Regions from separate parts of the Homo sapiens genome. Here region 2 is reported to be linked to region 1. Evidence: microRNA targets listed by miRTarBase, many of them from high-throughput screens and not tested one by one. Region 1 holds a microRNA gene; the other region holds the end of a gene's coding sequence.

Evidence for each region. The annotated mature microRNA hsa-miR-6795-5p reads UGGGGGGACAGGAUGAGAGGCUGU and lies in region 1 at 1,935-1,958, opposite strand. An mRNA with a match to its seed (bases 2 to 7 or 8) in the 3' UTR can be bound and repressed. Matches are read on the target gene's strand: a 7mer-m8 pairs with bases 2 to 8, a 7mer-A1 pairs with bases 2 to 7 and ends in A, and an 8mer does both.
Region 2: the mRNA of DUSP7 is a reported target of hsa-miR-6795-5p. Seed matches in the 3' UTR shown: 7mer-m8 at 1,605-1,611.

Annotation. Positions count from the first base shown.
Region 1 is chr19:15,177,388-15,180,451 of GRCh38, forward strand. It overlaps MIR6795 (microRNA 6795), which reads right to left and starts at 1,963; the gene lies at 1,896-1,963. It overlaps NOTCH3 (notch receptor 3), which reads right to left. Exons shown (of 33, transcript NM_000435.3): 20 at 2,685-2,869; 21 at 1,977-2,109; 22 at 1,638-1,895; 23 at 1,436-1,554; 24 at 138-703. RefSeq lists a silencer at 258-427.
Region 2 is chr3:52,048,334-52,051,333 of GRCh38, reverse strand. DUSP7 (dual specificity phosphatase 7) reads left to right here. Exons shown (of 3, transcript NM_001947.4): 3 at 212-2,415. The coding sequence ends at 519. LOC124906238 (a long non-coding RNA gene) reads right to left here. Exons shown (of 2, transcript XR_007095908.1): 2 at 2,376-3,000. Among named protein-coding and RNA genes, the nearest start is that of DUSP7, 6.7 kb to the left of the region's middle.

The DNA.
Region 1 (3,064 bases):
CACCGATGGGCAGATAGAGTGCACAGAGAAACAGACGGGGCAAGTGGATGGGCAGGTGGAAAGAGAGGCAGGGCCCACGGACAAACAGACTGGGATGGATGCATAGACAGACGGATCGATCGGGTGGATGGGCTCACTTGCAAGTGCGCTCGCGGCCACCGGCGTGGCAGTCGAAGTTGTCGTAGAGGCAGGCGGGCGAGCTGCAGGCGGGGTCGCAGCGGCTGTTGTTGAAGAGGCGCCAGCACTGCAGCGCCTCGCATTGCCGCCAGGGGTCGCCCACGCTCAGCGAGCAGTCGCCGCCGTCCCAGCCGCAGCCTGGGCTGTTGCACTCGCGGTCGCAGCGCTGGTCCCCGCGCTTGGCCTGGCAGGCGGCGCGCGGGCACCGCGGCTCCTCCGAGACCTCGGGTGCCGCGGCGGGCGCCTCGCAGCGCGGCCCGGTCCAGCCCTGCGCGCAAGCGCAGCGGAAGAAGGGCGCGAGCGGCGCGGGGCGGCAGGAGCCCCCGTGGAGACAGGGGGCGGCCGCGCAGCTGGCGTTGCTGGCCCCCGGCGGCGACCCCGGGAAGCTGCGGCAGGAGGGTCCCGACAACCCTGGGGGGCAGGCGCAGCGCGGCCCGCGGGGCGTCTGCTGGCATGGGACGCCCACCGGGCACTGCAGCTCCCGGCAGGAGCGCGCCACCCGCTCGCAACGCGGACCCCAGAACGGCTGGGGGTCGGGTTTGGGGAGGGAGGGATAAAAATGAGGGTGGGGAGTGGAGGGAAGGAGGAGAAGAAATGGAGGAGTGGGGAAAAGAAGAGTCAAGGGGAGAGAGGGGGAAGAGAAGAGGTCAAGACTAAGGAAGGTTGAGACCCCCTCAACCTCCCCATGTCCCACCCAACCGCTCCCCTTTCCACACTGGAGACCCCACCTGGCAGATAAGCCCTGCCATCCCAGGAGGCCACGCCCCCCAATCACCATCCTCACCCTTTTCCCTTCAAACCTCCAGGAAATGTCGGGGCAGGGGGTTGTTTCTTTGTTTTTTGAGACGGAGTGTCACTCAGTCGCCAGGCTGGAGTGCAATGGCGTGATGGCTCACTGCAACCTCCGCCTCCCGGGTTCAAGTGATTCTCCTGCCTCAGCCTCCCGAGTAGCTGGGATTACAGGCAGCTGCCACTACGCCCGGCTAATTTTTATATTTTTAGTAGAGACGGGGTTTCACCATGTTGCCCAGGCTGGTCTCTAACTCCTGGCCTCAAGTGATCCTCCCGCCTCGGCCTCCCAATGTGCTGGGATTACAGGTGTGAGCTACCACACCCGGCGGAAATGTCAGCATTTTCCAGAAACTCCCTTCCCTTCGATGTCTCCCCTAAAGCCACATCCTCCTCCTAGACGCCACGCCCCTACTACTCCAGAGGCCACGCCCCTACTCCTCCTCCAAAGGCCGCCACCCACACCTACCTGGGCACAGTGACAGGTGAAGGTCAGCCCACCCCCAGGACCCGGGCTAGGACGGCACTGGCCTCCATGCTGGCATGGCTGGGACTCGCAGGGAGACAGGACAGTCTGACAGCGAGGACCTGAGCGAGCGGGAGCATGTAGATCAGCCACAATGGGGGAATGACAGGCGGGGTCCCAGGCCAGCCCCTTCGCCAACGCTTACCTGAGAAGCCAGCATGACAAAGGCAACGGAAACCTCCGCCTGGGTCCTGCAGGCAGTCCCGGGTGTGTGCCGCGTGGCAGGCACCTGAGCGACACTCATTGATGTCTGCCTCGCAGCGCAAACCAGTGTATCCTGGGGGACAGGTGCAGCGGAAACCACCCACCAGGTCCACGCAGGTGCCATTGTGTAGGCACCGGGGCCCTGAGTCCAGCGGTGGGCCTGGGCCGCAGTCATCCTCATTAATCTCGCAGAGCACCCCTGGGGGAAGAAACGAGGGGTGGTCAAGAGGGAATGAAGACAGCCTCTCATCCTGTCCCCCCAACCCTGGCCCTGGCATACCCAGCGTTCCTGGGGGACAGGAGCAGAGATAGCGGGCCACGAGGTCAATGCATGAACCCCCGTGCTGGCAGGGCTGGGAGGCACACTCGTCCACGTCGTCCTCACAGTTATCACCATTGTAGCCAGGAAGACACTTCAGTGGGGTAAGAGAGGGACCCACTCAGCTTAGTGGGACACAGACCCACCTGGACATACCCATGAAGACGCAAAGAACCCCAGCACAAAAGGACACACACAGATGTTCAGCGCACTACCAGTAGGTAATCCCAGCACTTTGGGAGGCCGAGGTGGGCAGATCACCTGAGATCAGGAGTTCGAGACCAGCCTGGCCAACATGGTGAAACCCTGTCACTATGAAAAATACAAAAATTAGCTGGGCGTGGTGGTGGGTGCCTGTACTCCCAGCTATAATGAGAGGCTGAAGCAGAAGAATCACCTGAACCCAGGAGGCAAAGGTTGCAGTGAGCTGAGATCGCGCCACTGCACTCGTCTGGGTGACAGAGTGAGAACCTGTCTCAAAAAAACAAACAAATAAAAAAACACCCCAGATCTACCCAGAGTGACACCCACAGATACACCAAGAGTCACAAAAGCAAAAACTCAGACATATCTAGAGACATACCCATACCAAGCCACACAGAAATGTGTGCCCAGACGCACCCAAGCATGCCCACCTCCTCTTCCCTCTCCTGGGGAGCGCCCCCTTACCTCACACATGTAGCCCCCCATATAGCCACGGCAGGTCCCCCCATGCTGGCAGGGCTGGGCCAAGCAGGGGTCCACCTCCTGCTCACAGTGGCTACCAGTACGGCCCTCTGGGCACACGCAGTAGTGGGAGCTGTCTTCATCCACACACTGCCCACCCGCCTGACACAGCTGCTCCAGCCGCACCCCTGCAAAGAGGAGAGTGGCACAGGAACAGAGGTAACCCCATACATCCCCCTTCTGCCTCCATCACACAGATCATTCAACATCCTTGGTGGAATGAGTCCCCAGGATCGCACCCACACTCCATCAGGTTGTCACACATCCCCCCAGCAGGCAAGGTCTCATCACTGACATACACACACATGCCTTCAACGCTCACA
Region 2 (3,000 bases), not on the chromosome of region 1:
CTAAAGTGTGCAGAGCCCTCTCCACAGCAGTGCTGTTGACCTCTATTCCAAGTTGCTGCCCTACCCACACTGGGCTTGGCCAGGTCCCTCAGGGGTCGGGCAAGACCAGCCAGCCACCATGCTGCCCTCTGTGCCCCAGCCCCACCTGCCCACCCATGTGGGAAGGCTCCTTGAAGGAGGCACCTCCCTGACCCATGCCAATGTGTTTCAGACGAAGCCCGCTCCAAGAAGTGTGGTGTCCTGGTGCACTGCCTGGCAGGCATCAGCCGCTCAGTGACGGTCACTGTGGCCTATCTGATGCAGAAGATGAACCTGTCACTCAACGACGCCTACGACTTTGTCAAGAGGAAAAAGTCCAACATCTCGCCCAACTTCAACTTCATGGGGCAGCTGCTGGACTTTGAGCGGACGCTGGGGCTAAGCAGCCCGTGCGACAACCACGCGTCGAGTGAGCAGCTCTACTTTTCCACGCCCACCAACCACAACCTGTTCCCACTCAATACGCTGGAGTCCACGTGAGGCCTGGTGCACGGGGGGCATGGCACCAGGCCCCTGCTCGGCTCTCCACAGGGCTAGGTGGGAGAGCCCAAGCCCGCCACCTCTGGCCTGAGGAACCCCCAGATGTCACCTGTGCCCAGAGGCCCAGGCTGATCGGTGTCGGAGCGCCCCTCACCATCCTTGGGGGCAGGGCCCGCAGGCAAGGTCTCCCACTGCAGGGCTTGCTGGAGAGGCCTCGGCTCTTGGACACGTGGCTTTGGGCGTCCACCAGGGCCTCATCCTGTCCAGGACGCTCCTTTCTGCTGACAGCCCAGCCAGTTTGGCTGTTTTTTAAAGACACATCCACGGACCTGAGTTTACTTTTTACTTTTGGCAGGTAAATCCAAGCTCCCTGGAGCACAAAGAGTGTTTGAGCTCTTCTTGATTTTTCTTTTTTTTTTTTTTTTTTAACAAAAAGTGTTATTTTCAGGCTACATGCAACAGTGGATTGTATAACCCAGTATTTCATCCCTTTCCTGATCCTGCAAGAGAGAGAAATGTTCAGTTTTGTTTTTCGTTCAATTTCAAAAAGCAAGTATCGTGTTTGTTTTTGTTTTTGTTTTTTAATGGAAAAGACAGACGCCATGTTGACCTTGACCAAATGCGTTTTGCACATGTGTGAAGCCTCTGTTTCCTCAGCGGGCCCTTCTTGAAGGGGTGGCTTACTGCTCTTCAGGTATTGGGACCCCCAGTCGTGCCGCCTCCCACCCTTGGCCCAGTCTGACTTAGCTCTGCATTCGCCTGTGATGACTGCTGCAAGTTGTGATTGGTGGGCTGGATGGTGGTCTTTGCATTTTCTGCCGTCTCATCCATCCCTCTGGTGGTCCCTGCAGACCTCCCTGAGGCAGAAGGTGGGGACCCTGGGGCCCTGCCGCTGTCCCCCAGGAGGTGGGCCGCAGGGGGCTGCCAGGCAGTAGCATTAGCCCTCTGGGGTCAGCCCCTAAGAAGGCCTGGGCTCTGAGCCCTTTTATATACTTAGCCACTACTTCTGTCTGTCTGTCTGTCTCTCTCTCTTCCTCTCCCTCTCTCTCTTTCTCTCTCTCCCTCTCTCTCTCTTTCTTTCTCTCTCCCCCCCTCCCTCTCTCTTCCTTTCCTCTCTCTTGTTGTAACTGGGAGTGGAGGCCCAGTGGCTGGGGAGACATTAGGTGGTGGGGCCCAGCCCGACCTCCAGGTTCTTCCTTCTCCCTAGCTGTTGCTTTGGTCTGGCCACTCCCAGCCCCCTTGTCCCCTTGGAAGCTTGCCCTGCCCTCATCTTGCCCATGCCTTCTACTGCCAGGAGACTTGCACCCATTTCAACCCTAGGGCGGGGGCAAGTGGGGCAAGGATGGACCAGCAGAAGGGGGGTAAGGCTCTGTTCACTTCCCCCTGCCTCCACAGAACGAAGCCACGGATTCCGTTATCTTCCTCCAGTTTTGTTCCTTCTCCAGCCTCAGTTCCACCAGGTGTCAGGACTGCATGGGGGCCTGGGGCAGGCAGAGGAGTCAGGCCAGGGTCCCTGACGGAGCAGCACTCAGCATGTGAGTGAGGCCACAGAAAAACTCTGCCCCACTGCTTCTTACCTCACGGGGGTGGCTTTCAGGGATTCTTTAGCGCAGCAGATTAAAATCTTGCCACAGTCGAGAAATTGACAACAAGCTTCCATGCTGTACATGGTTCTCTTTTTCTCTCTTTTATTTTTAAAAAGAAAACCCAGAAAGATGTACCAGATTTGTGTAAATGAGGGTATGCCAGAAGGTGGCCAGTTTTGCTTTATGATCTTATGAAGGAAGATTTGTGACCCTACGTATATATATACACACACATACATATATATATATATCCCGAACCAACAACGGGACTTTGTTTATATTGCAAATAAATATTATTTTTTCTTTAAAATGAGTCGTGTCCGATAAGGGCTTGGGGCCTGGGAAGGAGGGGAAGGAGTGCTGTCGACAGGCATCCTAGTGCCTGCTCTGTGTGAGGCACTGGCCTGGTTCTGCTTGGGGTCTGCTGGCCACTTAGACTAATCAAGGTGCCCCGCAGATGGGAGGGAGCAGCCACAGTTTCTGGATGAAGCTGGGGCAGGTGGCATTTCCCCAGCCCTTAGGCACTGGCAGGCAGAGGCATCAGGGCTTTCTCTGTGGGCTTCTGCTGAAATCAAGGCTTGGAGAGGTTGTATATACCAAGTTGACACAACTGAGTCCTGACTCGCCCTTCATTGTCTGAGGCTGTCTGCTTAGGCATTGCCCAGATTGCAGCCCCCAGGACCCTAACTCTTTCTCTTGCTGCCGTGTGGGTGAGAGGGGAATGTGCATTTAACCCTGCCCCTGCAGGTCCTGAGATATCAGTGGGTAGTGACAGGTCAGCCCTTCTTTGCTTCTTAAGGGCTGGGTGGCCTTGGACAGGTCCCTTAGGCCGATTGCACCTGGTTCCTGAGTGCTTTTCAGCTTTGTGGCATGAAGAGCACATTATTGGCCTGGG